Linked DNA regions of Homo sapiens. The protein of the gene in region 1 purifies or fractionates together with the protein of each later gene. This does not show direct contact. Each region holds a gene or a part of one and is shown in the gene's direction. Other genes may lie near its edges.

Region 1 (7,000 bases):
TTCCTTTTTTCTTTTCTGGTTTTTTGTTTGTTTGTTTGTTTGTTTGTTTTGTTTGAGATAGGGTCTCGTTCTGTTGCCCAGGCTGGAGTGCAGTGGCACGATCACGGTTTACTGCAGCCTCAATTTCCTGAGAACAAGCAATCCTCTCGCCTTAGCCTCCCAAGTAGCTGGGACTACAGGAGCACACTACCGTGCCTGGCTAATTTTTTCTATTTTTTTGTAGAGATGAAGTCTCACTATGTTACCTAGCTTGGTCTTGAACTCTGGGTTCAAGCAATCTTTCCACCTTGGCCTCCCAAAGTGTTGGATTATACGTGTGAGTCACCTCACCTGGCTACTCTCATTCTTTTGAAATAGTGTTTAGTGTGATTGCAATTCGAGTATATGTAGAGTGTTTTTTTTTCTTTTTCTTTTTCTTTCTTTTTATGTTTTTGAGATGAGATTTCACTCTGTTGCCCTGGCCTGGCTGCAGTGGAGTGGTATGGTCATAGCTCACTGCAGCCTCACATAGAGGATTTTTTTTTCTTTTTCTTGAAATATCATGGGCATTTTCCATGATGTTACTTTTGTTGAAATATTATTTGTAATGGTTGCTTAGGAGTCTTCAACATGAATAGCCTACAATACATGTCATAATTCCACCATTTTGTCAATGTAGCTGCTTTCCTTGCCTTGCCTTTTACAAATCGTGTTGCACTGAACAACACTGTACATAATATTTTGACTTGTCTTTGATTATTTCCTAGAGATGAAGTCTTAGAAGTGAAATGACTAGGTCCAGGGGCAAAAAAAAACTTTTTTATTCTATTTTTGAGGCAGAGTCTCATTCTGTCGCCCAGTCTGGAGTGCAGTGGCACAATCTCGGCTCACTGCAACCTCCACCTCCCAGGTTCAAGCAATTCTCCTGCCTCAGCCTCTAGAATAGCTGGGACTACAGGAGCGTGCCACCACACCCGGCTAATTTTTGTTTTTAGTAGAGACGAAGTTTCACTGTTTGGCCAGGCTGATCTGGAACTGGTGACCTCAGGTGATCCACCCACCTTGACTTCCCAAAGTGCTGGGATTACAGGCGTGACCCACCACGCCTAGCTAGTAAAAACAAACAAACAAACAAACAAACAAACAAACAAAATATATATATATATAATGCCCTTCCTATGTTTTTGAACTGCCTGACCAAGAGGTGTCTTCAATGTATGCACTTGTGCTCATTAAGAGTATCTTTTAATTCTAAAAAAGGAGAAAAAGAACTTAAGCTATTTTAAAAGATAAAAAATGCATCTCATTATTCTTTCTCAGCATTGCTTTGGTTACTAGTGAGGCTGCGTCTGCTTTTCCTGATTGGCCAGCTGTTGCTCTTTCTGTGAATAATGTTTCAAGTCCTTTTTTTTCCCCGTTAGGATGTATTTATTTAAATAAATACATGTATTTAAATAAACTCTTTACCAGAATTATTATTTCTTTAGTTACAATATTTATGACAAATATTTCCCCATATTGTTCTTTAACTTTAAATTTTGTTTCTTATCACTTTTGGTACACACAAGTTTGCATTTTTACATGGTAAAATGTTGGTTTTGCTTGCTGAGAATTCCTTCATGGCTTTTATGTGTTAAAAGAGCATCTTCATACTTGTCTGAATGTTCCACCTAGATTTTTTAATGTACTTTATTTTATTTATTTATTTATTTATTTTTATTTTATTTTATTTTTTTTGAGATAGAGTCTCGCTCTGTCACCCAGGCTGGAGTAGAGTAGCGCGATCTCGGCTCATTGCAAGCTCCACTTCCCAGGTTCATGCCATTCTCCTGCCTCAGCCTCCCAAGTAGCTGGGACTACAGGTACACGTCACCATGCCCCACTAATTTTTTTTTTTTGTATTTTTTGGTAGAGACGGGGTTTCACCATGTTAGCCAGGATGGTCTCGATCTCCTGACCTCATGATCCGCCCGCCTCGGCCTCCCAAAGTGCTGGGATTACAGGCAAAATGTGCTTTATTCATTTATTTATTTAGAGATGGAGTTTTGCTCTTGTTGCCCAGGCTGGGGTGCAATGGTGTGATCTCGGCTCACTGCAACCTCTGTCTCCTGGGTTCTCCTGCCTCAGCCTCCCGAGTAGCTGGGCTTACAGGCATGCACCACCACGCCAGGCTAATTTTGTAGTTTTAGTACAGACGGGGTTTCTCCATGTTGGTCAGGCTGGTCTCGAACTCCCTAACTCTGGTTATCCACCTGCCTGGGCCTCCCAAAGTGCTGGGATTACAGGCGTGAGCCACCGTGCCCAGCCAATGTGCTTAATTTTTTTAAGTTAACTCTTTAACTCATCTGGAATTATTTTGATGAATGGTGTGAGGCATAAATGGAACCAAGCTTTTCCCAAACAACCAATTTTCCATTATAGTTATTAGTTAATATTTCCTTTCTCCAATTAATTTGTAATTCTTCTTTTTACCACATGAGAAGGCTTTACATCTATGAGAGTCCATTGTCTGGGCCATTTACTTTATTTCACTGGTCTGCCACTTCTTGAACCAACATACCACAATATTTATATTGACACTTTATCTTTTCATATCTGATATGAAAATCATTTTTTTCTAAAACATCTTAGTTATTTTTATTAGTTTATTCATACGGATGAAAAAGTTTAGGATTTTGACACATTTTACCAGATCTCATGGAATTTTCTTTGGTACTGCACTTGTTCAGTTCCCCAATCCTCAATCATGGTAGAGCTGTAGTTTTCCTTATATGGGTCCTGCTCAAATTGTTAGAAATTCTTATTTCTAAGAAATGTATTATGACTATCATAAGGCGATTTTCCCATCACCACCCCTGCTCAGGTTACTACCAATTATTGTTGGAATAACAGAAAGTGTTTTTTTCCCTATTCATCATACACATAGCTACTTGCTGCGATTATGGATTCTGAGAACGTCTTAGGTGACTATTTGGGTTTTCCACGTGGGCCATCATATCTGCAAATAGTAGTATTTCTGCCTTTTTTTTTTTTTTTTTTTTTTTTTGGTATTTCCACTTCTTGCTTCATGTTTTACTGCATTGGCCAGGGCTGGTAGAAAGATGTTCAGTGGTCACGTGAGGTTTTACTACTGACTTTATTAGGAATGCTTCTGGTGTTTCTCATCTGAGTTCCGTTGTCGCTTAGACTTTGAAATCCCTTTTTAAAAATCGTGTTCAGAAAGCACATCTCATGGAAATGACAAATATGAGAACTAAAACCGACAAATTTCTGCCCAAAATCCCACATGCAGAGCCTCCTGGCCTGGAGCCTCCTGAGGCGTCGGTTCTTTGATGACTTCCCATTTCTTTTCCCTTTTTTTTTTTTTTTTTGACGGAGTCTGGCTCTGTCGCCAGTCTGGAGTGCAGTGGTGCGATCTCGGCTCACTGCAACCTCCGCCTCCCAGCTTCCAGTGATTCTCCTGCCTCAGCCTCCCGAGTAGCTGGGATTACAGGCGCCTGCCACCATGCCCGGCTAATTTTTGTATTTTCAGTAAAGACGAGGTTTCACCATGTTGGCCAGGCTGGTCTCGAACTCCCGAACTCAGGTGATCCGCGCGCCTCGGCCTCCCAAAGTGCTGGGATGACAGGCGTGAGCCACCGCGCCAGCTGATGACTTCCCATTTCTTCCTTGGTTCTTTCGGAGCCACTTTGGGAAATTCGGTTCTATCTGCAGTGGTAAAATACAGGTCGGCTCTCCACGCGCGCGGCCAATGGACGCTCCCAGCGCGGACAGACAGGCCCTTTGCTGGAGCTGGGCAGGGCGAAAGGACCCCAGGGCGGGGCTTCAGTCGAGGCCGGCCCCGCCCACCGCTGCAGCCGCGCATGCGCCATGTACAGGCTGCTTTGGGCCCTCCCGCGTGCCGTTCTTACCCGGCCTGCCCCGCGCCGCCGCTTCCGGAAGTGGGTCTCGTCTCCTCCCAAGCGGAGCATTTGTGCCTGAAGCTGCCGGGTCTGCTACGGCACCGCGGGGCTGCAGAAACCCGGGGGCCAAGGGCGGGCTGCTTGCCGCTATGGCTGGCAGTCAGGACATATTCGATGCCATCGTGATGGCGGATGAGAGGTGGGTGGTGAGGCCGGGCCCGCACCCCGCCCTGTCTGGTCGTCTCCCAGCGGCTTCGCCGCCGGCTGCGGCCCAGGGCGGCTGCTGGAGCCTGGCGTCCCTTGGGCGTGCGCATTGGGGAGCGCCTGGTGGCCGTGGACGCAGGGACAAGTGTGGGCCTGATGCTCTGGTCCTCTTCTCCTGGCCCGCTCCGGCGGGGCACGTGCCCAGCTGCTCTTCCAGACCCGCCTTCCCTGTCAGGGCTGCCCCAAACATCTGCTCAGCCTGGTGGTTCCCCTCCTCCGAGGCCGCCTCGTCCTCTGGGAGGACAGACCTTTGCCATCTGGGAGCTGCCTTTTTTTCTGGTTCCTTAATCATAGGACATACGGCAGTATTCATGGATGTGCTGATAGATGTACCCGACCACACCCCTTTTCCCTCCAGAGCCCCTGGGGAGCCCCTCGTGCTGCGACAGTGGGGGAGCTGTGAGTTGCCTCCTGGCTGACTTCCAGTGCCCGGCCCAGAGGACGCGTCCATAGATGTTAGTTAAGAAAGCGGCCGAACATTTAGCAGTCAGGCGCTGACGTTTATTTAGCTCGCGCTGTGAGTCAGACACTGAGCTAAACGTTCCACCCTGGTTATCTACTTCAGCCCTACTTAGTAAGTGGATCCTATTATTCTTCGGAATTTACAGACTAGGAGGCACAGTCACTTTCCAGGGTCACACAACTATTAAGTGGGGAGCTATGCACCCTGCTTCATGGGGCGCTGCAGCCCACTCCTTGCATGTTTGGTGACTGCAGGTTAAGATAGTGGCAGTTCCACTGTTGGGCCTCAGGGTCAGTGCTACTCCGGGTACCAGTCGGAGAACATTTTGTGGTGATCTGATGCCATTTCTCTCTGTTGCCCTACCCATGTGATGTCAAACCCTGTGTATGTTGCAGTTTTTTGGAAGCGGTTGACTTGGGCTAGTGCTACTTGAACACTCACAGAACTTTGGCCCCCTAACTCTGGCTGCAAACCAGACTTATCTAGGAGACTTTGAAAAGTAGATTCCGGGCCAGATGCGGTGGCTGACGCCTGTAATCCCAGCACTTTGGGAGGCCGAGGCGGGCGGATCACGAGGTCAGGAGATCCAGACCATCCTAGCTAACATGGTGAAACCCCGTCTCTACTAAAAATACAAAAAATTAGCCGGATGTGGTGGTGGGCGCCTGTAGTCTCAGCTACTTGGGAGGCTGAGGCAGGAGAGCGTGAACCCGGGAAGCAGAGCTTGCAGTGAGCCGAGATCGCACCACTGCACTCCAGCCTGGGCGACAAAGCGAGACTCCATCTCAAGAAAAGAAAAGTGGATTGCAGGCCAGGTGCGGTGGCCCTCACTTGTAATCCCAACACTTGGAGCGGCCAAAGCTGGAGGATCGCTTGAGCCCAGGAGTTTGAGGCTATAGTGAGCTGTGATCATACCACTGCACTCCAGGCAGGGCAACAGAGACCCTGTCTCAAAAAAAAAAAAAAAAAAAAGGAAGAAAGAAAAGTAGATTCCAGGGCCTTGCTCCAGACGTACTGAATCTCTGGGGGTGAGGCTTTTGAGTTAATATCTTTGAATTTTCCTTGTGTGTTTCTAGTACCCTATCAGGTTTGGGAATCCCTAATTTAGCCCTTTGTTGTAGATGAAGAAACTGGGCTACAAGAGGTACAGTGACTTCCAGAGGCAAATAGGAAGTGGTAGATCTGGGACTGGAATCTGTGTCTTCTGACTTGAATTTTAGGCTTTTCCTCCTTTACTCTGGTTTGTCTTACTGGGTCCGGGTAATACAAGAGAGAGAAGTTTTTCTGGAGAAAGTATTCTTTCTCCTGTTGATTTGATGAAGCATGCTTCTTCTTCACAGGTTTCATGGGGAAGGGTATCGGGAAGGCTATGAAGAAGGCAGTAGTTTGGGTGTGATGGAGGGAAGGCAGCATGGCACGCTGCATGGAGCCAAAATCGGGTCTGAGGTAAGTGGGAACCCCCATCTGGAGATGAAGCCTCTTCATTTACAATTTATAATTTATTTCGATATTCAGTGTGATGGAGTAAGAATTGTCAGGCCTTTTAAAATCACAGTGCCGGATGGGCGCGGTGACTCACACCTGTAATCCCAGCACTTTGGGAGTCTGAGGTGGGTGGATCGCCTTGAGGTCAGGAGTTGGAGACCAGCCTGACCAACATGGTGAAACCCTGTCTCTACTAAAAATACTGAATTAGCTGGGCATGGTGGTGCATGCCTGTAATCCCAGCCACTTGGGAGGCTGAGGTATGAGACTCGCTTGAACCTGGGAGGCAGAGGTTGTGGTAAGCCGGGACCGTGCCATTGCACTGCAGCCTGGGCGACAGGATGAAACTCCATCTCCAAAAAATAAACAAAAAAAATCACAGTGCCTTTGCATGGGAGTTAATGGACTAGATGGACTGTTGCTGGAGAAATATTCTTAGTACAGAACCAAGAGTGCATTTTGCTGTAGGTAGATACAATTAAATTATGCATGCTGGATAAAAGAAAACAAGTCCCTGGTCTCCTTAGTTTACTTGGGAGTGTCATGGTGCTGGCTCATGTACTAAGCCAAAGAATGGGTGCCCTCTGTCATGTGAACATATTCCATTTATGTTTACGTTGAAATTTCATTAACTTTATGATTTTTTTTTTTCTCTTCTTGCCCTTTGTCCTAGATTGGCCCTTACAGATAAGTGGCCCTTAGTGGCAAAGTCTGAGTTGAGGCAGTTATGACTATATTGGATGTTCGATGCTGTGAAACAGATCACCACAAAATTCATGGGCTTAACACAGCAAATATGGATGATCTCACATGTTTCTGAGGGTTGGGAACTCAGGAGCAGCTTTGCTGGGTGGTCCTGGCTCAGGGTGTCAGCCAGAGCCGTGTCACCTGAAGGCTTGACTGGGCT
Region 2 (7,112 bases), on another chromosome or scaffold:
GGACTATCAAGTCCTGTAGGTACTCAATAATTTTTTTTTTCTTTTTTTGAGACAGGGTCTCACCCTGTCACCCAGGCTACAGTACAGTGTCGTGTTCTCGGCTCACTGCAACCTCCATCTTCCAGGCTCAAGTGATCCTTCCACTTTAGCCTCCCAAGTAGTTGGGGCTATAGGCACATGCCACCATGCCCGGCTAATTTTTGTATTCTTCTATAGAGACAGAGTTTCACCATGTTGCCCAGGTTGGTTTTGAACTCCTAAGCTCAAGCAATCCATCTGCCTCGGCCTCCCGAAGTGCTGGGATTATAGGCATGAGCCACTGCTCCTGGCCAGTACTCGATAATTTTTTGTGGCTGTTTGAAGGTTCAGTATTGAGGAAGATGTTATGAAGTAAATGCCATATTTCTATTCTGCTCTTCTTCTACCTCCCACTTCTCTTCCTAAACCCTTTTAATTCTAACTGCTGATGGTACTCTTATAGGATGTATATTATATATATGTACATACACACACACATACACCCTTATGCATATGTATGTATACACACACCATATATAGTATGTGTATATATGTGTGTGTATATAAATATATGTTTATATGTATTTAAATAATTTTGATTAGTATTGCCCAGTAAAAAGGATACCAACTATGAATAGTTACATATATTAAATATACATCATGATAATATTAAGATGACAAGTTAGATATTAGACCTTAACTGTCTTTTTTTAATCCTCTTTTTTTAGATACTCTTGCAGATTATCAGAGCAGGTTCATTGCACTATAACTAATCTTGCTGTCTCTGTTGCATGAGTGCAAAAGATAACATAAAATGGTTGTCAAGCAGTATCTTCATTTTCAAAGGGGGGAAAAGTTGACTTTTGTACAAGCCAGTAAATTTATTGTTGATTCCTGACAAATTTCAAGATTGAGTCATTCAACAGATGGCTGTGGGACTTAGAGAAGAACACGGGACCAGCATGGGGTGCAGCTCAGGAAAAGCAGTTGCTGTCACATAAATGTGTATCCTGTTTTGGTAGATTACTATGTTAGTAGAGAACTGTGTCAACATACTATTCTGTGTCTGAATTTCAGCAAGCAGATAGAGCCACAGGATTCCTCTTCTAGACTCACGGTGGGGAAGCAATAGCAAAGACTCCTCAGGAACTGCAGCAGCATGCCACTCTAAGTACCATAGTGGCCTCCTGCTGAGAGTTGTTGCTTTGTTCAGAACTGAATTCTAGGAGAGGATCTGAAATCATACTTGTTCCCCTCAATCAATAAGAATATGGCCTTGGAGTCACGAACAAAAACTAGGGTCAAAGCCCTGTTTCATCACCTTGTAGCCAGGTAACCTTGAGCAAGCCACCTAAGATCTCTGTATCTCCATAATAATGTCCACCTCTCAGCGTCAAGGTAAGAACGAAAGGATAATGCTATATCGAGTGTGCAGTATCCCACCAAACCCAGTTTTGGGGCTCTCCTGAGGGGGCAGTCAGGGTGTCAGCCAGGGCTGCAGCCTATGGGTGCCATCCATCATCCAGGCTTGGGGCAGCATTGGCCTTGGGAGCCAGTGTGGCATCTGATTAAGGATGTGTGCTTTGGAGCTGACTACCTGGGTTGGAATCCCAGCTCTCTACTTACCAGCATGACTCTTCCACCTTTCAAGACCTCCATTCCCTTCCTCTTCATCCAGAAGTAGCTGGAGAATGGTATAGGAGAAGCACACAGCCCAGTCCAAATTTCTGTTTTATAGAGAACACAGGCCCAGACAAAGCCTCTTAGTGAGTTGCCTAAGATCATCAGGAAGTGACCAAGCAACAAGCAGAGCTCAGGATTCCCAGATTAATGTCGGGAATGTCTGCTATGCAGCGTGCCCACATTTACCACAGTTCACTGCCGGGGTGGCCCAGTTTCGCTCTGGGGCCTTGATCCTTATTACTGAGGGGCTGTGCTCCTTCCCAGCCTGAGTGTCCACCCTCAGAGTCCCCCACTTAACTGCTTCTCCCAAAGCTCATGGTATATCCAATTCTGAACACAGCAGGAGTCAGCTCACATTCACCCCAACCCAATCTCAGCCCCTCTGTCAGGGGAAAGACTCCAAATGAGTAAAACTCCCAAACTCTCCTCTGAAATGCATTTTCAGAAGGAAAAAAAAACTTTTAACTTATGGGTATTATTCATGCTTGTAATTTTAAGCGAGGACACTTGGCTGGAGAAAAATCACCTCTAAAAGTGGCTCAATAAAAAAGGCTCCAGTAGCCCAGAGTGTGCTAGCGCAGTCCTGGGCTGGACTGATGGGTATTGGTTCATGCTTGTCCTTTTTAGTCACTGACACAGTCTTATGACTGTTTCCTTTCCTGCTAGAAAAGGAGATTCCCAGGTTTCTTTTCTATTTCTTGATCACTCTAAGGTGAGATAATTACCCAATATACCACGATTACATTTTCATTTTAAAATTTGAAGTAATTTTGGACTTACCTAAGAGTTGCAAAATAGTGCAGAATTCATGAATACACTTTACCCAGCTTCCTCTTTTGTTAACGTCTTGTATGGCTGTAGTATAATGATCAAAATGAATCAATTAGTGCTAGTATACCACTATAAAGTGCACACAGTATTTGAATTTCACCCGTTTTTCTGCTTAATGTCTTTTTTCTGTTCCAGGATCCTTTTTCTGATCCAGTTTCCCCACTTTGCATTTAATTGTCACTTATTCTTGGCTTCTAATCTGTGACAGTTCCTCAGCCTTTCCTCTTTTTTCGTGACCTTAACACACTTGAAAGGGTGTGAGAGATTTTGTAGACCATCCCTCAGTTTGGATTTATCTAAACTCCTCCAATTCCCATGGGGGATTCGAGATGCTCTCTGACAATCACCTTCACAATCTATAGAAACAACACATTTAAGAAAACCACATCAGTATCTCAAGACTTTAAGTCAACCCGTAAACCTACCAAAATGCATTTTTCAGATGGGACTTCAGTGATTGTCAGAGAGCCTATCAAACCCCCCATGGGAATTGGAGGTGTTTGGCAGTTTGTTTTCTAGTAGGGACTTTTGTTGACATCTCATTTCACTCATTTAGCACAAACACTGCATCTGAAGGTAGCTTGCAGTGGGAGAATATTGCTGGCAAGGTTTGCCTTTTCTCACCCAATATAGAATTTTGAGGCTGTGATTTGGCTCTTCATTCAGTCAGGAATGCAGCATGGGAAATAGAGGTTTTCAAGCCTTCACTCCCTGCTGCCTGCAAAAAAAAGTGTCCAGTCATACCTGCCTGTCCTGCTCAATACCCACGATATGATGGTCAGGAGAGGAAGAATGGGCATGAGGTTGGTGCCTGTGCCAAAGGGAGATAGGAAGGTCTGAGTTTGCACTGAGTCCCAAGGGGTCGCAGAGATAGAGGCTGAGCAGCAGGTCCCTTGGCAGCTGCCCACGCTGTTTCTGTTTCAGGAAGCTGACAAAGCCAGAGGTGGGTGTCAGCACATCCCCCCGCCCCCTCTACTGAAGTCACCACCTGACTTTTCCAGGCTCTCCCTCCTCATCCAGGCGTCACAAGAGCCACCATCACTGGGACCACAAGAAAACTGGCCTCCAATGCATGCTTCTGAGTCTTTCTCTCTTAAACTTCTCAGGACCAGCCTCAAAAAACATGGGGAATAAGGCAAGGTGTCCCACTGTGTTGCATACCACCCTTTTCCTTCACCTTCCTCCTCACCACCATGGTTTGCTTTTGGCTGAGTCCTCGGTGATTTAGCTTTCTCTCCTAATTATATGGCACCAGCATCCTGACTGGTTGATTGGGAGCTGTGAACGGCTGAAGTGTGCCAAGCTCTGTCTGCCCCCCATCCGTCTCAAAGGCTGTTAGGATCTATGGCAACTTTTGTCAGTTCACTTATAGGTTTGGTTTTTAGAGCTAATATATGATATACAGTCATGCATCAGTTAATGACTAGGTTATGGTCTGAGAAATCTCCCATGGGGCAATTTTGTCATCATATGAACATCATAGAGTGAATTACACAAACCTGGATGGTACAGTGTATTATACACCTGTATAGCTTCATACCCTAAGCTATATGGGTATGGCCTATTGTTCCTAGGGTGCAAACCTATACAGCATGCTACTGTCCTGAATCTCTAAGCACAAGAGAATCTTGTAACACCAAAGTATGTGTGTATCTGAACACATCTAAACACAGAAAAGGGATAGTAGAAATACTGTATAAAATACTAAAAAAAGGGTCCACCTGTATGGGGCACTTACTGTGAATGGAGCTCGCAGGACTGGAAGTTTCTCTGGGTGAGTCAGTGAGTAAGTGGCAAGTGAAAGTGAAGGCCTAAAACATTACTGTACAGTACCATAGACTTTGTAAATATTGTACACTTAGGCTACACTAAATTTATTCTAAAAATACTTCTCTTCAGTAATAAATGAGCTTACTGTAACTTTTTGACTTTATAAACTTCTTTAAAAGTTTTTCACTCTTTGTAATAACATGTAGCTGAAAACATGTTGTATAGCTGTACAAAAATATTTTCTTTATATGCTTATTCTATAAGTTTTTTCTTTCTTTTTTTTTCTTTAAACTTTTTGGTTAAAAATGAAGACACAAACACACACACATTAGCCTTGGCCTGCACAGGGTCAGGATCATCCTTATCCCTGTCATCCACCTCCACATCTTGTCCCACTGGAAGGTCTTCGGGGGCAGTAACATGTGTGGAGCTGTTGTCTGTGATAACAATTTCTTCTTCTGGAGTCCTCCTGAAGGACTGTTTTACAATTAACTTATTTTTTCCTGCATAAGTAGGTGTACGCTCTAAAATAATGATAAAAAGTGTAGTGGAGTAAATACATAAACCAGTAACATAGTCATTTATTATTATATCAAGTACTACATACTGTATGTAATTGAATGTGCTAGACTTTTCAACGACTGGCACTGCAGTAGGTTAGTGTACGCCAGCAACACCACACATGAGTGATGCATTTTGCTACAATGTTCCAACAGTTAGATTGTCACTAGGTGATAGGAATTGTTCAACTCCATTATAACCTTATGGGACCACTGTTGTAGATGCTGTCTGTTGTTAATGGAAATGTCATTATACAGCACGCCACTGTGTTCAGTTTTCCCCTGTGATGGACATTGCTATCTGTCTATGGCTTCATGGTCTTAGTAGATATGTTTATCCAGGTTAATTGAGAAACTGCTTCTCAGAGAAACATTTTTTTTTCTATAAAAGTTCTATATTAAAATGGCAAAATAGAAACTTGAAAAACATCATTGTAGGCCAGGCATGGTGGCTCACACCTGTAATCCCAGCACTTTGGAAGGCCGAGGTGGGCAGATCACCTGAGGTCAGGAGTTCGAGACCAGCCTGGCCAACACAGTGAAACCCCATCTTTACTAAAAATACAAAAAATTAGCCAGGCATGATGGCGGCTGCCTGTAATCACAGCTACTCAGGAGGCTGAGACAGGAGAAGCACTTGAACCTGGGAGGCAGAGGTTGCAGTGAGCCGAGACCGTGCCACTGCACTGCAGCCTGGGCAACAAAGCAAGAGACTCCATCTCAAAAAAAAAAAAAATAAATAAATAAATAAGTCATTGTATTTATACAAAAACTGTAAATTGTAGGAAGATGCAAAGAAAGAAAGATACTCACGCCTAAAGCCAGGATCCCTGCCATCAGCCAGTCAGAGGAAGTCCAGTGTGTGGGAATCTGTGCCGTCCCCCAGAGCCCATTCTGAGGCTGCCCTTGTCCACCAGACGTTGCTACTTTTCATATGGACTAGCGACAGATGAGAAGGAGGCAGTGTGTTTTCCTTTAGGGATTATTACGTTGTTAAATTCGATCCCACCACTGTAGTTAATGGTAACTATTTTCTGACTCATAGTGTTAATCCTTTGGAAAGGTATCTAGAGAGTAGTGTTTACTGAAATCCCTTTTGACAACTGCTTGGTTTGTGGAGTGCCTTGGACACTTACAGGCTCTTTGGAACTCAGCAGCAATTCCGAACTGATTGTAGCTTATACAATAAGAGACTGATATTATGGAACAATAAGAATAGGTTAATAGCTATAATTTTTCTTACTAAATAAAGGAGGAAAGGTTGGCTGAGGTTAAAATTTTAAGGGCTGTGCTTCTTAAGCTGAGTCTGGAGTTTATCTTTTGGGCAGGGAACTACCTTCTGGTATGTTATAAGGAGGATAATGACCTAGTGTTTCAGGTGTGTGGCCCACATTCCTGCCTCCTTTCTGCATTGCCTTCAGATCTGACCTGGCTTTGGTCCAAATGTTAGAATGACCACTTGATCTCTATTCATTTTTGATGGACTATCATAAAGAAAAAAAAAAAACTTCTTGCTGTAAAATGAGAAAATAACAAATCTTACTTGAGGTAGTGTGTCCTTTTTAAAATGCAGATACAGAATTAATTTTTAGCTTATTCATAGGACAGTGCCTTCTATTATAGGGCTGAGTTTTTGCGGTTCCTCCCCCAGGGTGATGAAGTTCTGGTGCACATATAGCTGCATAGGTTTCTGAAGAGTCTGTTTCATTTATAAGCTGTGAAGTAATTAGAAAATGTGAGGGTTTTTTGCAGACACGTAGGACACCAGGCCAAGCTTAAAGTTGGCTCTCAGGTGGACATTATTTGGTAGAGCAGATAACAAAGTGTCATTCTTTGATTCAAGAATAATTACTGGTAAAGAGCCCATTTTAATAAATGCCAGTTTGTCATAGCATTCTTTTTGGCAGAATATATTTATCTCTGTACCAGATTAGGAGTTTCCTATTGTGTGTGTGTGTGTATGTATGTGTGTATATAACATGTATGTATGTATGTATATAACAAATATATATATTTCAATATATAACAAATATATATTTCACTATATAACAAATATATACACACATACATATATGTATATATGCATTAAACACATATATACCTATATATGTTAAACATATATATTAAAATCTTATATATGTATTATGCTAATATTTATATAGTTAATGTTGGAGTTACAAGCCTCTTTTTTTTTCTTTCCTTTTTTTTTTTTTTGAGAGAGTTTTGCTCTTGTTGCCCAGGCTGGAGTGC
Region 3 (7,112 bases), on another chromosome or scaffold:
AAATTCTAAAATTCAGCCTTATCCTGAAACAGCAAGGAAAAGCCATCTTAGGATTCATCCCTAGCACATTATCATGCATTTTGTGTTCTCTTACTGATTGCCTAAGGTTGCTTGATACCCACTTTGACCTTTGGAATTTCTACTCTTAAATGATTTTTCCTCTGAAACATTCATTATTTGCTTATTACTTTCTAATTTTAAAATTATTGCAGGGGCTGTGGAGTGGAAAAAAAAAAAAGATTGTTGCAGGCTGGGCATGGTAGCTCACGCATGTAATCCCAGCACTTTGGGAGGCTGAGGCAGGAGGGTCACTTGAACCCAAGAGTTTAAGACCAGCCTGACCAACAGATTCCGCCTCCACAAAAACTTAAAAATTGGTTCAGCATGGTGGTGCATGCCTGTAGTTCCAGCTCCTCTAGAGGCTGAAGTGGGAGGATCGCTTGAGCTTGGGAGGTTGATGCTGCAGTGAGCCCTGATCATGCCATTGCACACCTGGGCAATGGAGCAAGACCCTGTCTCAAAAGAAAAAAAAAAATTCCTTTTTACTTGTTGGACATGATGGGTTTTGAATAGAAAATCTCAAAACATGTCATAGATGGTGGATACACATTGATATCTGTTGGTGGCAAATTGATATACTTTTATTCTGAAGCTTAACTTTGTCAAGATTCATAAATAGAAGAGTTCTATAGTGAAAGTTTATCATTTAAATACTTTTTTATATTAAAAACAGGGAAGTGTTCGCCAGTTACTACATGAAAAGATAAGAGATGCTTATACTCACCCACAATTTGTGACCGATGTAATGAAGCCTCTGCAAATTGAAAACATCATTGATCAAGAGGTACTTTAACATAATTTTTTTTATTTTTTTATTATTTTGAATTTTGGATGCCTTTACATGGTTTGCTAAACTCCTCCAATTAGGTGCAGACATTATCTGGTGGTGAACTACAGCGAGTAGCTTTAGCCCTTTGCTTGGGCAAACCTGCTGATGTCTATTTAATTGATGAACCATCTGCATATTTGGATTCTGAGCAAAGACTGATGGCAGCTCGAGTTGTCAAACGGTAAATATCTTGCTCCTAGCCATATTTTGATTATGTATACTGTCCTACAAGTGTGCTTAATATAACAGTCGAATGTTTTATGATAGAAAGCTATAAGATTTCAAAATCATTGTGTTTTAGTTTCATACTCCATGCAAAAAAGACAGCCTTTGTTGTGGAACATGACTTCATCATGGCCACCTATCTAGCGGATCGCGTCATCGTTTTTGATGGTGTTCCATCTAAGAACACAGTTGCAAACAGGTAAAATTACTTTTTAATATGTTCAAAGTAATTCATTTTAAATTTTCCAGTAAATAGTAAAGTCACTCACTTTAATTTTTAAAAAATGAAAGCTAGAAATTCTAGACTTGATTCTGTGACTCCTGAGATCATTGGTATTGGGGACTGGATGGGACCATGTGGAAGAGTAGTGTTTAGGCTTCAGTGTGGAATCCCTCACCAGGAAGATAAAAAGCTGTAGGCCACAGCATAAAAAGCTGTGGGCCCCTCACCTTTTCTCAGCTTAACTTTTGTTTGCTTTATTATTTGAATTTCCCAAAAAAGATTGAAAACTATTGCTTTCATACATGATAGAAAAAGAAAACAAGATTAAAGAGGTTACATGATTTGTCCAACTTATGCTGACAGTGATTGAGCTCACAGTGGATCCCAAATATCTGGTATTAATCTATAGCAGAGTTAAAATAAATGGTTTTACTTTTTTCGTTTTTTCTTCTCATTTTTCCTTGTTAGCCTGATTAAGAGCACTTGCAATATAGAGAAGCCTAACATTCAGATCAAGTTATGAGAAATTCATTTTACCTTTAGTGCTAAAGCCTATATTATTAGATTGAACTAAATGAAATTACTGGTGTTCAGTTTTCACCTATAAAACCAGCAGTTTCATGTGGTTTCAGCATGTTTTCTGGTATTGGAGAGCAAGGAATGGAGTTGCCATTTTAATAATTCATCTAAGAAATAAAAGTATTTTGCTGGGCTTCTTCCCTGAATTCCTTTTTTTTTTTTATAAATTGAGAATTACATATTTCTTAAAGAGCTAGGGAAATTTCTTAGCATATGTGATGTTTATTTGTTCATCTAGTGATATCCCACCTTTCTATTTACAAAATTTTAAAATGTTTCACATGTATGTTGTGATTTGGCATGATTTAAGAACTCACTTGGGTAAAAACGATTAAGCATAGAAATTTAGAAAGGAATTGTCACTGAAAACCACTATTAGGAGGACATATTCCCTCCAGTAACAAATTTTTCATATAAATATAACTTTTTAAGATTCTCATCCCCCCTAAAAATGTGCAATTGGAGATTCTGTAATCTACTTATTAATTATCTTCTGTTTTTCTAAAGTAGTACTTCTATCTTAAATGTTTCTTTCACCAGATTAGAAATCCAGGTTAAATTTTTTTTTTGTTTTGCACAAAAATATTACAGCCAAGAAAACTATATAGTCCAAGCAAAGCTATTTCTGAACACAGGATTTGTAATATGCTGTTATTATACTGTTATCCAGATGATTTATGATTGGGGAATTTGAGGTAATAGTAATTCTTAATACCCTTCCTCTCAAAAGGTAGTTACATTTCTGAAGTAAAATTTAATCAAAATTGATTTTTTTTTTTCTCTTAGTCCTCAAACCCTTTTGGCTGGCATGAATAAATTTTTGTCTCAGCTTGAAATTACATTCAGAAGAGATCCAAACAACTATAGGCCACGAATAAACAAACTTAATTCAATTAAGGTATGTAGAAAAGTTGTCTTAAATCATGGATTACTGATCTCAGTATAAACACTTGAAAGGCTATTTAAAAATCAATAACATATGGCTGGGCACAGTGGCTCACACCTGTGATTCAAGCACTTTTGGGAGGCCAAGGCAGGCAGATCACTTGAGGTCACGAGTTTGAGACCAGCCTGGCCAACATGGTGCAACCCCATCTCTACTAAAAATGCAAAAATTAGCCGAGTCTGGTGGCAGGTATCTGTAATCCCAGCTACTTAGGAGTCTGAGGCAGGAGAATCACTTGAACCTGGAAGGTGGAGGTTGTAGTGAGCTGAGATCATCCCACTGTACTCCAGCCTGGGCAAAAGAGTGAGACTCTGTCTAAAAAAATAAAAATAAATTAAAAAACAACCATATTTTATTTTAAAATTCCTATGTTTTTTACATTTTAAGACCTGATGGCATACTTTAGTGTGCGGTAGGCAGCAATTGTAATGTAGCTGTCATTGCTGTGTGAACTCAAGAGCTCTTCCTGTTTTCTCTTTAAGTTGTATCACAGTTGTACTACCTATATTGATTACCACTTAAAATGTCTGGGGAAAGATTACACTAATTCACCATTGTAACAAAGAATTTTTTAAGAATACCTTAACCAATTTCTGTTATATTTTTCAATACATGATTAAAAGGTGTATTTTAGGCCAAGCGCAGTGGTTTATGCCTGTAATCCCAGAACTTTGGGAAGCCAAGGAGATCGAGACCATCCTGTCTAACGGTGAAAACCCATCTCTACTAAAAATACAAAAAATTAGCCAGGCGTGGTGGCATGCGCCTGTAATCCCAGCTACTCGGGAGGCTGAGGCAGGAGAATCACTTCAACCCAGGAGGTGGAGGTTGCAGTGAGCTGAGATCGTTCCACTGTACTCCAGCCTGGGCAACAGAGCGAGTCTCTGTCCCTGCCCCCGCCCCCGCAACCCCCGCAAAAAAAGTATATTTTGAAAGTCTAAACAAGCTCCTGTGATGAGGAAAACATTGTGTCTACTTAATTGACAATGTTTTTTGTCTTTGTAGTTCACAGTTGTGCACCCTACAGTTGATTTCCTCTGTGAAATACAGTATTTGTTTCTTAAAAGGCAAAAATCTTAGTCACTCAGAAACAGAAAGTAAATGAACTCTAAAAGCATTTCTGGGTTGTTTTTTTGGTTTTGGTTTTAGTTGTTTGTTTTTTTGAGGCAGAGTCTCACTCTCTCACCTAGGCTGGAGTGCAGTGGCGTGATCTCGGCTCACTACAACCTCTGCCTCCCGAGTTCAAGCAATTCTCTGCCTCAGCCTCCCGAGTAGCTGGGATTACAGGTGCCCACCACCACACCCGACTAATTTTCTGTATTTTTTTGATAGAGATGGGGTTTCACCATCTTGCCCGTGCTAGTCTTGAACTCCTGACCTAGTGTTCCACCTGCCTTGGCCTCCCAAAGTGCTGGGATTACAGGCGTGAGCCACCATGCTGGCCATCATTTCTGTTTTTAATATCTGCAGTGCCTCAAAGTGTTTACATTTTATCACTCTGTATCCATCATCCTTAATGCTTAAAAGCTTTAGAAGTATGTTATACATACTTCTGCTGTAGCATTTATTTTCATATTTGTAGTCCTAGCTTTGCTGCTAAACCATGAGCTCTTGGAATGCCAGAGGCAAAGTTATCTTGCACGTCATTGTATTCTTAAGCACCTAACAGTATGTCTGGATGCCTTTTTTCTGATTGATATTACTTCTTGGCCAGGATAGAGAAATGGTTAAGTTCTCACATAAAATTGAAGAGTTTTCTCAGTTTTGAAAAGCATATTGGGTAGAAAAGAAGAATTTCTTTGGAAGCATTAAGGACACTTTGTATTGTCATTTTCTTAGACAGACTTATGGTTCAGTCACCATGAGTTATCATTTCTGTATGCCTACTCATCTTAAGATTGTCATACCTTAATCCTAATAAGAGAACAGCTCAACAAGTAGGTAGGTGAGATTGTTACTGGCCAGTATTGGAAAAAACTTTATATATATATATTTTGTGTAGTAGGCAGATCTCAAACTGACAGTATGCTGCATTTTGAATCTGGAGATAAAAGTTGCATTGATGAAAATGGAATTTAATAGTTTTCCTAGAAATAATAACACATAGCAAAATTTTATATATGTGAGGCATCTTATATAAAGGGACTTTACTTGAGTTGGTGCAAGTGAGTCATTCTAGCATTAGGGATGGGGCAGAGGTAGTTATCTTTCCTTTGAGCAGTGGACCCAGGAATATCCAGAAACAGATGGTATGTGCAGAACAGGTTGTACAGGCACTGTTTTAAGCACAGCTAAGTAATACCATGAGTGAAAGTCTACTTTTACCTATAGTAGAATCGTGTTGCTGATTTTTGTGGCTTCTGTTTTCTTTTTTAGGATGTAGAACAAAAGAAGAGTGGAAACTACTTTTTCTTGGATGATTAGACTGACTCTGAGAATATTGATAAGCCATTTATTAAAAGGAGTATTTACTAGAATTTTTTGTCATATAAAACTTGAATCAGGATTTTATGCCCCACATACTCTGGAACTTGAAGTATAATATACTTAATATAACATAAAAAGCCAGTTGGGTTCTAAATTGTAGTTGAAACACAGAAAATGCCACTTTTCTGTTCCTGAAGAGGCTCTTTTGTGCATAATATTCTAAAATGAAGACATTTCAAGCTATACAAATTACTTCCAAGTTTTCATGATGTATGGGAAGATTTTCAGTAGGTGTATTATATTCACGGTACCAAATGCTGACCAGTGTTGCTCCATTTTTTAAATCTTGAAAAGGGTTTCTGTACTTACCTGGTTTGCCAAGTATGCCAGTGTAATGAAACTGCCCTTATTTTAAAAGCCAGTCAAAGATTCCACTGATTGACATTTGATAAATAAACATCAGGATTATGTTTATTGTTTGTTTTCAGTCTTTGCACTATATTACCAGTATATGGTTTCCGAGGAAGATTATCTACTGCAAAACACCACTGTTGGAAAAATAGGTATTTTTAAATTGTTTTTAATCTTTTTTGGTGCTTTTAAACATGTTTAGCAAAAACCAATTCAGTTCCATTCCCCGCAAAAAACCCCTAACTTTACTCTGAACTTTTTTTGTTTTTGCATTCCATGAGGTTCTGTATTCAGTCATTCTCTAGGTAATGTCATTTTTGTACACATATATTTATATAATCACTGATTGAGATTTAGGAAAAAGCATTTCTAAAGAATATTTGCTTCCCTTAGAACTACAGACTCGAAATCTTTAAAGATGGTGCCTAAGCATCTATGTATTTTTTTTAAGTTCCACAGATTTTTCTGTTGGGCAGCCAAGGATTATAAACCACTTCCCTAAAGGCAACATTAATGCAAAAGTCCCCAGATGGCAATACAAAGTATCCCCTGGTACCACATATATTCATTTGTGAGTTTGGATATAGAGCACATTATCTAAACCATTTTGTAGTTCCAAAAACCCATCTAAATTTCTTGAGTTCCTGAATTTTGAACAGGATTACCTGGAGCCTGGAGCCACTTTAAGTTGTACTTCTGACTAAACTGGAATTATGAGTGAGGAAGAGTGTTTACTAAATAAATGACTGGGGCAAGCAAAATTGAGGAGGAAATTAGAAACTGTTTGACAAACTTTAAGAGCTACTTGAAATAACAGAAGTCTTGATTAATATGCAAATAATGGCTAGAAAGTATGGTTTAACTGGACCCTATTATGCCTTTTAAAAATAATTTCAGTAACCCATAAATACATGTTGTAAAAAATTCAAATATACAGAATGGAATAAAAAAATGATCTCCCTTTATTACCCTCCCAAAGGTTACCAGCGTTTGAATTTAATAATGTATATTCTTTCATGCTTTTTTCTGTGCACTTACCTAAGTGTGAATATGTAAAGGGTTTGTTTTGTATACAAATGGGATTATACTAAAATAAGTAATGCCTATTTTTAAGGATAGGTTAAATTTGTGAATGATCATTTCAAATATATTGAATAAAATAAGCAAAAGCTATTGTTATTTACTGATCCTGGATTGTCTTAAAGAAAGTACTTGTGATATAAGAGCACAGTTCTACTTACTGCTAATGACAGAATATGTATTAAACGTATTTTCATGTAAATGAAATCTTTAAAATATGTATCTTAAAATTTTACATAGCAACAGAAAGGCCTACAATTGCTAACACAAGAAAAATACTTATAAAATCAGTATAAAATCAATGCAGATGTTAGCAAAAGAATGAGACTACT

Evidence for each region.
Region 2: the proteins of LTO1 (region 1) and TGFBRAP1 purify together in Homo sapiens (co-immunoprecipitation; 2 studies listed by BioGRID and IntAct, with this or other methods). This does not show direct contact.
Region 3: the proteins of LTO1 (region 1) and ABCE1 purify together in Homo sapiens (affinity purification with mass spectrometry; 4 studies listed by BioGRID and IntAct, with this or other methods). This does not show direct contact.

The regions. Positions count from the first base shown.
Region 1 is NC_000011.10:69,672,270-69,679,269, reverse strand, and holds the start of LTO1 (protein LTO1 homolog), read left to right. Parts: upstream 1-3,916; 5' UTR 3,917-4,030; coding exon 4,031-4,080; intron 4,081-5,948; coding exon 5,949-6,054; intron 6,055-7,000. UniProt on the Homo sapiens protein: The complex LTO1:YAE1 functions as a target specific adapter that probably recruits apo-ABCE1 to the cytosolic iron-sulfur protein assembly (CIA) complex machinery. May be required for biogenesis of the large ribosomal subunit and initiation of translation.
Region 2 is NC_000002.12:105,319,655-105,326,766, reverse strand, and holds part of TGFBRAP1 (transforming growth factor-beta receptor-associated protein 1), read left to right. Parts: intron 1-7,112. UniProt on the Homo sapiens protein: Plays a role in the TGF-beta/activin signaling pathway. It associates with inactive heteromeric TGF-beta and activin receptor complexes, mainly through the type II receptor, and is released upon activation of signaling.
Region 3 is NC_000004.12:145,122,288-145,129,399, forward strand, and holds part of ABCE1 (ATP-binding cassette sub-family E member 1), read left to right. Parts: intron 1-733; coding exon 734-844; intron 845-927; coding exon 928-1,070; intron 1,071-1,190; coding exon 1,191-1,313; intron 1,314-2,702; coding exon 2,703-2,814; intron 2,815-5,238; coding exon 5,239-5,286; 3' UTR 5,287-7,112. UniProt on the Homo sapiens protein: Nucleoside-triphosphatase (NTPase) involved in ribosome recycling by mediating ribosome disassembly. Able to hydrolyze ATP, GTP, UTP and CTP. Splits ribosomes into free 60S subunits and tRNA- and mRNA-bound 40S subunits.